2 separate regions of the Homo sapiens genome follow, and region 1 is linked to region 2. The links come from fine-mapping of genetic effects on gene expression. A gene starts in region 2. The other region holds a variant in brackets. All regions are shown on one strand. Distances are from middle to middle.

Region 1 (5,369 bases), 57 kb before region 2:
GTCCCCAGGACAAGCTTGCCAGGTTGCAATTTTTATCCATGTTTCTATACATAATGAAACAGGCTCATAGAGGGTCAGCCATTTGCCCCAGATCACGCAGCTGGTAGGTGCCAGTGCTGAGGCCAGGGCCGAGATCACTCTAGAGCCTGTGTTAGGAGCTGGCTACTTACCTGTGCCAGCAGGTTAATGGGAGTGGAAAGTGATTCTCTAGTCCTTCCCTCCCTCCCTGCTCCCTCAGCCTACCCCTGTTCCATCTTTTTTCCAACTAGGTTTCGATCCCCTGGCCACACTTCCTTCTGTTTTCACTTTGGGTCTGCACTTTCTCTTTTACTTTGGGAAGGAAACAGCTCCCAATTTCTCTCCCTCTTGCTGAATCGATAGCTTAGCTGGGCAAGGCAGAACATGAAATTTACATTCAATGGTTTCCATGGCAACCACCGTGCTGGACCAGTTTCTCCTGCTCTTGGGGGCACAGTCTTTTGAGAAGAGCCAGGTATCAAAAACTCAGCTCCCTGAGAATGTGGCAAGGGTTTTAAACAGAACTAGAGAGGGCTTGAGTCCCCTTGACCATCAATTTTTCTGGCTGTGTGTTACATGAGGGAAGGGAGAAGAGCCCTCCATTTCCCCAATATATCAAGGAGCAAATTGCTGGTAGCATCATCCCTCAGCCTCATCACAGCTAACACTTTGTGAGCTCTGACTACGTGCCAGGCTTTGTGCTGAATGCTAAAGCATTCTTTTCTTTCATCTTTGCTTCAAACTTAAGAGGTAGGTACTATTGTTATCCTGTTCCGCAGATGAGGAAATTGAGCCAAGGGAATATTATACACCTTACTTTAATGTCTCAAAGAGTCACAGCCTCCAGGATGGACCCTAGATTGGCTTGACTCCGGAAACTGTGGTCTTAATTATGCTGTAATGGAATCACACTGGGGACTCAGAGGTGAACAAACTCCCTTCCTGCTTTGCTGAGGTCTACAGAAAGGGCTGTAGCATCAAGGCTGAGAGCACAGGTCTGCAGCCAGGCAGCCTGGGTGCCTTTCCATATCTTGGGTGTGCCTCAGTTTTTTCCCTCTGAACTAGAGATTAGGCATAGTATCCATCTCTCAGGCGTGTTGTATGGATTAGGTGAGATAAAGCCCACAAAGCACTGGGGTGGTGCCTGGCACATGGTCAGTACTCCATAACAGTAACCACCATGTTTGCCACTGGGGTAGGAGGCGGACCAGTGGGAGTCAGCCATTCACATGGTGTCAGTGTGTCCTGGAGAGCCAGGGAGAAGCACTGGACTGTGACAGCTCAAAGGAGACAGCAGGCAAGGTCTGGGGGTCAGAGAGGCTTCCTGGAGAAGGTACAGGGAAGGCAAGGAGAGGAAGAGGAACATTTGAGGCAGAGAGATTGGCAGAGAGTAAGGAGGGAGCGTGGTACATTTGGGCAAAGACTAGCGTGGGATGGGGCTGAGACTCCGGGTGTGTGGAAGGGGCATTGTCATTCCTGCCTCCTCAGTACCTATTTCTCTTCTTAATTTTCTTTTAGGAACCCACTCTCTCTCATCCACAGTCTATGTGATTGGGGAAGGTCTGGCTCCGCCCCCTGGGTCCACGTATGGGCATATGACTGAGCCCTAGCCAATGAGAGACTTGCATCTCTCTGGCTGCATGGACACATGACTCAAGCAGAGCCAATCACAATTAATGCATGCTATGCCTGAGACTTTTGCTGGAGCTATGGGGGTGGCTTAGCTGGTAGAATGAAAGCTTCAAGCCGCAGGGCAGTGGGGGCTGTATTTTCACCTTGAGGAGAGAGCCTGCCTGAGAATGAGGCCAACAGTAGAGGGAGGTGTAGCTCAGAAGTGGCAAAAGATGAATTCCTGGCACTGTTCCTGGATCCAGCTGTGCCAGAAGTCCCAAGGCCTTTCTGGCACAGTAGCCAATAGATCACTTCCCTTTTATTTATGCCTGTGTGAGATGAGATTATGCTTTTTACCATAGCAAGAGCCCTCCTTAACGCTAGGGGAGTGACGAGCAATGGGCTGAGGGGAAGGCAGGAGAGCCAGGTCATGAAATCTTAGATGGCATACTGAAGAGCTGAAAGGTGGTGGGGAGGCTTGATTATAAGAAAACGGTTGATAGGATCGGGCTTTCGCAGGATCCTCTGACAGCAGCGGACCAAAATGACTTGCAATAGAGCTCTGGCAAGAGGCTGGTGTGGTAGGCCAGGTGGGAGAAGATGCGTCTGACCTAATGCAGAATGTGTTAGTTTCCTAGGCTGCTATAGCAAATTGCCACAAACTCCACGCTTAAAACAACACCAGCTTATTGCCTTATAGCTCTGCAGGTCGGAAGTCTGAAATGGGCCTCACTGGACTAGAATCAAGGTGTTGGCCAAGTCGCCTTCCTTTGTGGTAACTCTAGGGGAGAATCTGTTTTCATAGCTTTTCCAGCTTCTAGAGGCCACTTGCATTTCTTGGCTTGTGGCCTCTTTTCCGTCTTCAAATCTCATTACTCCAGCCTCTGCTTCCGTCATCACATCTCTTCTCCCTGATTCTGATCTTCCTG[C/G]CTCCCTCTTATAAGGACCCTTGTGGTTGCATTGAGGCCACCTGGATAACCCAGGATAAGCTCTTCATTTCAAAATCCCTGACTTAATCACATCTGCAAAATCTTGTTCGCACGTAAGTTGGTATATTCTCAGGTTCCAGGGATTAGGACACAGACATCTTTCAGCTGTTTGTTTTTTAGAGATGGGGTCTCACTCTGTCATCCAGGCTGGAGTGCAGTGGTGCAATCATAGCTCCCTGTATCCTCAAATTCCCAAGCTCAAGGGATCCTCTTGCCTCATCCTCCCTAGTAGCTGGGACTACAGGCATGCAATACCATGCCTGGTGAATATTTTTAAAACCATTTTTAGAGATGGGGCCTCACTGTGTTGCCCAGGCTGGTCTCTAGCTCCTGGCCTCAAGCGATCCTCCTGCCTCAGCCTTCCAAGTAGCTGATATTACAGACATGCACCACCACTCCAGTGTGGGCATGGACAACTTTGGTGGCTATTATTTAGCCAGTGGGGATGGAGGAGAGCTATGGATAAGAGATACAAGAAGGAGTCAGAGTGCCTGAACTTGGTGGGTGTGGGTGGTGAGGGAGTGCCTACAATTCCCAGGGCATGCATGGTGGCACCAGTCCCCCGCGTGGTCTGATGCTTTCCAACAGTGTCCCACAGTCTGGCACAGGCACAGAGCAGGCAGGCAGATGAATCCATTGAGGCTGGAGTTCTTGCCAGATGGGAGGTACAATGGCAGGATGATAGGGCAAGAGCGAGGGGGGTGGTTGAATCATGGATCCTGGAATGTAAGAGGGAAAGAGAGAAAGAGACACTTTCCTCTAACAGGTAAGAAAGTAGACCTGTCAACAGGAGAAGGAACTCACCTTTGCGGGTGACTGCTGCACACCTGGCCCTTGCTGTACCCTGGGCCTGTGTCCACTCTAGTCCATGACCCTGCCTCCTGCCGATGTGACAAGCACTTGAAGGTCAGTTGGGAGCCTCAAACTCAACAGGTCCCAAACCAAGCCCCTGACCTCTCCCCATCCTGCTTCTTCTGCAGCCTTTCCCATCATTCTTCCTTCTGACTGCTTAGGCCAAAAACCTGGTGTTATTCTTGGCTCTTTGTCTCTTATGATCCCCCACCCAGAGCTTGTCATCTCCACCTTCAAAATATTAGCAGAATCAGACCACTTCTGCTCCTTCACTCTGGACCAAGTGACATTATGTCTTGCCTGGACTGTTGTGAAAGCTCCTGAGGCATCTCCTTGCCCCTCAGTCTATTCCCTAAGCCCCATACCGATTCTCACCTTATTCGGAGTAGAATTCAGTCCCAACATTGGCCCTCAGGGCTCGACATGTTTAGGCACCTGTCGCTGCATGACTGGCTCTTGCCTCTCCTCCCACTCCTGACTCCACCCTGGCCACTGTGACTTCTTCCCTTTCCACAGGTATGTAGCCCCACCCTGCCTCAGGGCCTTGCATCCTGCTGTTCCCTCTGCCTGGGACCATCTTCTCCCAGATACTCACATAACCTGCTTCTTCACTTCACTCAGGCATTTGCTCAAGCTTACCTTCTCAGTGAAGCCTTCTCTGGGCATCCAATTTAAAAAGATAACACCACCTCCATCCCTGCATAAGGGAACGGCTCCGCCTTGGCGCCCTGCATGCAGCCACAGGGCCACGCAGCAAAGGTTCCCACCCTTGAACCACAGCCTAACCCAGCTTGGCACGACACCCTGCAGTCCTCCTGGAACACCGGAGGATGGAGGCCTCTCCCCTGGGAGGCAGTGCTGAGGCAGCTCCGCAGTGCCTCCTGGGTCCCCAGCAGAATAGAGCTGTGGAATTCAAAGCCACTTAACTGCAGTCAAGCTGTGTCAGGTTCCTCGGTGATGGGGTGTCCCACAACTCAGACCCAACTCGGACTGTGGTCGTCCAGGCCCTTGGCTTTGGTGGCATCATTTTAGGTGTGCAGGACAGGGACCCTGGACATGACACTGTCCCTGACTCTTCCTTTCATTGTCCATGCAGGTCACACACTGTCAGAATCTAAAAGTGGCTCGTTGTGTCTGCTCTGGCTGGGTCAGTCAGGGCCAGCCTGGTCTTGCTGCAAGTGCTTAACCACCACTCTTTGCTATGTTGTGTATTTTAATTATCATGTTCTGTTGTTTCTCCCTCCGTGAGGACAAGGGTTTTGTCTCCTTTTACGTGGTTCATGCCCAGTTCCCAGTCCTGGGGCTGATACACGGCAGGTACTCAGCAACTATTGAATGAATGAAGATGAGCCATCCTCAGGCCTTTTGTACATAAAGAAATCGAGGCACAGAAAGGTCACACAGCCAGTCATTGGCGCAGGTGGGATTTGAACCCAGGCAGTCCAGCTCCAGAGCCCACCCCTACGATTCACAGCTTCCCATTGGGGGAGAGTTTCTGCAAAGGGGAGGAATAGGTATGGTGGAGCTTGGATGAAAGCAATCAGGGAGAACTGGTATTTGGTTGGAGATCCAGTAGGTTTCTGGTGCTGACCCTAAAGGTGTGGCTGAGGGCCTGGGAGGCTGGGATGGAGTGGAGGATTGAGATCCTGAGAGCCCAGGGTGCTGGACTTGGCATGGGTCGTCCACTTGGTCACTGGGTCGTCAGGTGGAAGGGCTGGGGTAGGGAGGAGGCCTGCAGGCTAGGCCAGAGCCTGCAGCAGAAGGGTCTGGAGTGGGGAGCAGTGGGCCCTGGTATGGTAGGTGTGTGGTAGATTCCAGGGTGGCCACTCTAATTCTAAGTTATTTTTGGTAAGGTTATCCCATTTTTCTAAAAATGCCTAAGTCTTGGATTCATAATTT
Region 2 (5,369 bases):
TTGGACAACTCCTCTGCACAGGTGAGGAGGGAGGAAGACACATCTCTGGGTCCCCAGGAGTGGCCAGCACAGAGTCAGCCCCAGCCATGCCCAGGGAATTCTCTGCCCCTTCCCCATGTTGGGGGAAATCACAAATTCTTCCTCAGTGAAGAAAGTTTACACCCCCATAGCATCTGAGGGTCAAAGGTGCCTTCCAGGAACCCGATTTGTCCTCCCTAGCTCCCTCTGGGACCCATTCTCTGCAGCCCTGGGGAGTGGAGCCTGCATGGTCTCCTGAGCATCACTGCAGTGTTGCTCTTCCTACCTCCAGGGAGATCCTGAGAGAGCCCGAGTGTGCCCGGTGTGGATCTCAGCCCCACTGCTTTGGAGCTGGGAGACTCTAACACACAACTTAACCCGAGTCTCCATTTCTGCACTTGCAAAATGGTGATAATAATCCCCTCTTCTTAGAGCCGCGGCCAGGATCGATGGAGATAATAGATGAGAAAATACTTGGCTGGGGCAAAAGTGCAGTCTCGGCAAGAGTGTTCTTCCCCAGCACCCCTCCCATCTGATGCAGGACTTAATGAGAGCTGGCTGCTCCCTGGGATCTTTAATTAATTGTCCCAGCCCCACAGCCCCAGTGCTAGCAGATTAAACCCAGCCACGGTGGGGAGTAGGCTGCGGACAGCTTTGGATGCAAATGCCTGAAGCGAAGGATTTCTGCCTGTGAAATGGCTGAGTGGGTGATTTTAGAGCAGCTGCGCCCGGGGCTGCCCCCAGGGAGATGAGCCTCCGAGCCCTCAGCAGAATCAGTGCAGCCAGAGGGTGCCCTTTTCTTACCAACTCATCTCCGGTGCCTGTGGGGTGGGAACCTCGGCCTGCCAGCTCCAGCCCCAGCCCCAGCCCCAGCCCCAGCTCCAGCGTGCCTTGGCCAGCCCCAGAAACAGGAGGGAGGATGCAGGCAGATCAGTTCCACAGTGACCTAGAGGTAACCATCCAGGTGCCCTCCAGGTTCCCCAGCTGTTTCGTTCCCGAGGCGGTGCTCCGCCCGCCCTCTGCCCTCCAGCTCCTCCTGCATCAGACCTCGGCCTAGCCTTTGCTGTCCCCATGGCTTGGGATACTGTTTCCTGGCTGTCACAGCAGGGCTGTGTCCTCTGCAGCCTCCAGGGCTCCATGTGAGTGTCTGTCCTCGAGGGACATCCTTCTGGACACCCCCAGGCTGCTCTCTGCCTCGCCTGCACAGCTCCTGCAGCAGAGCCTGGAAAGCTCCCTCTGACTTGGTGTTTTGTCACCTCGCCCGCTGGTTATCAGCCCCATGGAAGCCTGGTGTCGGTGCCTGGGACCAGCTACAGGGGCTCTCAGGAGGGCCTGGACCGGGTCTGGGGCAGGGAGGGAGGAGCAGGAGCAGGCAGAGGAGACACCGAGCTTCACTGCTGGCACAAGGACAGCCAGGACTCCCTTTGGGCCTGGGACTGGAGTAGACCAGAGCTGTCCTGAGCAGGGGGTTGTCCAGGCCTGTGTGGCTCAGTCATAGGACATGGGCCTGGGGAGGATGGCACAGGGGTGCTGTCTGTCTGCAACTGGGGGTGATGCTGAGCACGTCTGGTTACAGCCCCTAGCAGCTGGGCAGTGTATCCTTCCATGAAGCAGGTCTGAGGCACATCCCTGCATCTGCCACAGAGGTAAGTGCCTTCACCTCTAAGTAGACAAAGCACTTGTAACACAGTGGGCGCTTAGTTACTCTTTGGCTGGCTGTACAGGATCTAGTCCCTACTAAGCACCCCAATTCTGATAACTTTTGGTTGTCCATGTCTGAGTCCCTGTTCTGCAGGAAACGGCACCCACACTATGGAGCCCAGGGTCCTGTGCTGGGAGCTTCCCGCAGCCTCTGTGCCTCCTCCTCCCCACTGGCCAGGGGGTCCCACTGTGTCTATTATGGATGAAGAGGTGAAGGTGTGGGCCCCAGGACGTGGTGCTCCAACCTCTGTGCTCACTGCCATGCTCAGCATGGCTCCCTGGGAGCCTGACCCTGAGGTGTGGCATGGACGAACCCTGGGCTGGGCTTCCTCCCTTTGCCCCTGGCCTTTACCCAGCACGAGCACCTCTGGGAAACACCCCAACCCCCAGGACAGTCTGAGTTCCTGCACCCTTCAGCCCGGGCTTGCCTGAAGATGGCTGTGTCTTTCAGCACCTGCATCTTCAGTGACTCCCCAGACTCCCCGCAGTCCCCACTCCCCACCTCCCTGGGCCCACGGTATGCAGCCACACCCAAGGCAGCCCAAGTCCCAGTAGCAACACCACACATTCCCAGAACGCTTACGCTGGGCCAAATTCAGCCTGTGCCTCTCCACAGCCAATCCTGCACTTGCCGGCCCCTAACTCTGTAGCTGCACACAGGGCCTGGGCACTTGAGACCTCAGACTCGCCACCGGCTCCTCAGAGCCCCTGCCCAGGTCACCTGTGTAAGGAGAACACAGTGCCAATGCAGCACAGCATAGTGACACCCGGCCTGCCGGGATTTAGCCCCCACCCTACCTAGCGGTTCTGGAGCTGCCACTGTGACCCATGCAGGGTCGAGCATCCCAGGTGAGTGCAGAGCCCCTGACCCGGGGATGTCACTGCTCTGTGGGACTGTCAATAGTGATACAGGAATAGAATCAAGGGACATAGGGGCAGCTCTGCCAGCACAAACCATCAGTAGCATCCAGCTTGGGGTTGCACAGCATCAGAAAAGCCTTCCTGGAGGAGGTGGAGTCTGAGCTGCCTCTTTAGGGTAAGTCTTTTAACAAGAAGAGGACCAAAAGGGTGGGCTACGCTGGGGGTGCAGAGGTGTGGGCTGTTTTCAGAACACCTGGGCTTGGGGTGAGCTGTGGGGGTGGGAGGTCAGGCTGTGGAGATGTGGCTGCTGCTGGGGCCCCTGTGCCTGCTGATGGGGTGTCTCTGGTACCTGGAACCAGGTGGAGCAGGTGGGAGTGGCCTGACGGGGTTAATGCCCACCTGGTCTCCCCAAAAGCCTTTGGAATCCTCACTCAGGGTCCAAGGACACCCTTCAAGCTGGCCCTGCCCATTCCTCCAGGCTCCCACCAGGGCTCCCCCACATCTGTGTTCCCCAGACACTCTGGCCTTCTTTCAGGCCCTCCCAGCCACTGCTGGGCCTTAGCACTTCTAGAACGTTCTCCTCTGCTCCCCTGCACCCCACTACCAAGTCTTTGTCCAGTTAACTGCATCACATTCTTTGGGTTTGAGCGTCATCTGCACTGGCTCAGGAAGCCCTTCCTGGCCCCAGATGGGATGACCCTGCCCTGTCCCCTCTCCCGAGGGGCTTGCACATCTTGGTGCTCTCACGGTGGTATGCCCTGTGACTCTTAGAGTTCCTGGCGCACTGTAGGGACTCAGGAAATACTTGCCATGCGAGCGGAAGAGTGAATGGATGGATGAGTCACCATTCTTGTGGTGACCTGAGGGCTAGCTGGATCCCAGGCCAGACAGAGAGCCCAGGAGAGTGGGGTCTGGGTCTCCTCGCCTTCATTGTGTCCTTGGCTCCTACCAGGCATCCGGAGTCTAGCGGGCACTCAATAAGTATGTGATGAGATCGTATTTTGGTGTGTTAAAAATTATTTTTTTGTCTATCCTAATTCCTCTTTGACTAGTAGTTATTCCCCTATTAAAACCTGACCATGGGCTGGGCGCGGTGGCTCATGCCTGTAATCCCAGCACTTTGGGAGGCTGAGGCGGGCGGATCATGAGGTCAGGAGATCGAGACCTTCCTGGCTAACACGGTGAAACCTCGTCTCTACTAAAAATACAAAAAGTTAGCTGGGTGTGGTGGCGGGTGCCTGTAGTCCCAGCTACTTGGGAGGCTGAGGCAGGAGAATGGCATGAACCTGGGAAGCGGAGATTGCGGTGAGCCGAGATCGCGCCACTGCACTCCAGCCTGGGCAACAGAGCGAGACTCCGTCTCAAAAAAAAAAACAAAAAAAACTTGACCATGAGACATCCGGTGGCCTTATGGAGGAAAGTTACTGCAGGTGAACAAGAGTTAGAGTCTTAGTTTTTCCATTTCAGGAGTCAATGCTTTTAATTTGCAAGAGCCTGGTGTGCCCCTATCAAATGCCCTGAGGGTCTCAAAGCTTCTCAGAGACGTGAAGGAGCAGGTGTGGAGCCAGTGACAGCTTCTCCCTCTCAGGAGGAAACAGAGTCTCTGGGGCTGGAGAAGCAGGAGGGGGTACGTCAGTTAGCTTTCATGGCATAGCAAGCCTTCCCAAAACCCAGGGGCCAAAGGCAGCACAACCGACAGTAATTTTTTCATTGTTCTGTGGGTTGCCCGGGGAGTTCTGGTCTCCGTGGGCTCAGCTGGGGCTGGATCATTGTGGCAGCCTCGCTCACATGTCTGGGTGGCCGCTGAGAGGCCCGGGGCTGGGTGCCAGTCTTCTATCCTCAAGAAGCCCAGCCCAGGCTTCTTCCCTGGGCAGTCAAGGAGGGCTGTAAAGCCAGGCTCTTTTCCAGTCTCTTCTTGCATCATTTGCTAGCGTCCCCTTGGCCAGGCCCAGGCTGGGGGGTAGAAGGAAGGAGCCCCTACTCTCCTGACGGGAGAAGCAGAGCACACGGTCATCTTGCAAGGGGGTGAGCATAGGGGAGTAAAGACATTTGTGACCTTTTTATTTGCAACTCACCACAGGGAGAGGAGGAGGATTTGAGTGAGACAGACCTGTGTCCTGCGAAGGCTCTATGCCCTGCCAGCGTCTTCTGGGTGGAGCTGGGGAGCAGGGATGGTAGAAGCCGGGGGATGAGTTGGGGGATCCAGAGAGATGGCTGTCTTTGTAGCATTTTCTGGAAGACAACATGGCTCAGGAGTGGCAGACAAGGCGGGGTGGAAGGGATACAGAACACCAGGGAACGGACACAGTGGGTATTACTACTGGACCCCAGTGTGGGGTGAACAAGACAGAGAGCTATCTGGGGACCTAGGCCTGGAGACAAGAGGGCCAGCAGAGAGCCCAGGAGAAACCAGGGAGGGCAAACGAAGATGCAAAATGGGACACTCCCAGGTCCCCAGGGGCAGGGGAAGCACAGGCAGGGGTCCAAAACCCGTTTGCACTGCAAGTGCTAGCTGGGTGGGTGACATTGCTGGGTGGATGACACTGTCGGGTGGGTGACACTGTCGGGGGGATGACACCACCAGGTAGATGACACTGGTGGGTGGGTGACACTGGCGGGGGGATGACACTGGTGGGTGGGATGACACTGACAAGCAAGTGACACTGGCAGGTGGGTGGCACTGGGAGGGGGTGACACTGGCAGGTGGGTGACACTGGTGGAGGGATGACACTGGCAGGGGTGACACTGGTGGGGGTGACACTGGCGAGGGTGACACTGGCGAGGGGGTG

The links. PIP is the estimated chance that this variant, and not a neighbour inherited with it, causes the effect.
Region 1: its variant is fine-mapped to the expression of LINC02016 in lung (TOPMed, PIP above 0.99).

The regions. Positions count from the first base shown.
Region 1 is chr3:127,444,744-127,450,112 of GRCh38, reverse strand. No RefSeq gene overlaps it. Among named protein-coding and RNA genes, the nearest start is that of LINC02016, 57 kb to the right of the region's middle. The variant C/G (reference allele first, on the strand shown) is at 2,559.
Region 2 is chr3:127,387,645-127,393,013 of GRCh38, reverse strand. It overlaps LINC02016 (long intergenic non-protein coding RNA 2016), which reads left to right and starts at 2,344. Exons shown (of 5, transcript NR_110147.1): 1 at 2,344-2,568. It overlaps LOC105374094 (a long non-coding RNA gene), which reads left to right and starts at 4,116. Exons shown (of 3, transcript XR_924459.3): 1 at 4,116-4,605. RefSeq lists an enhancer at 511-1,322.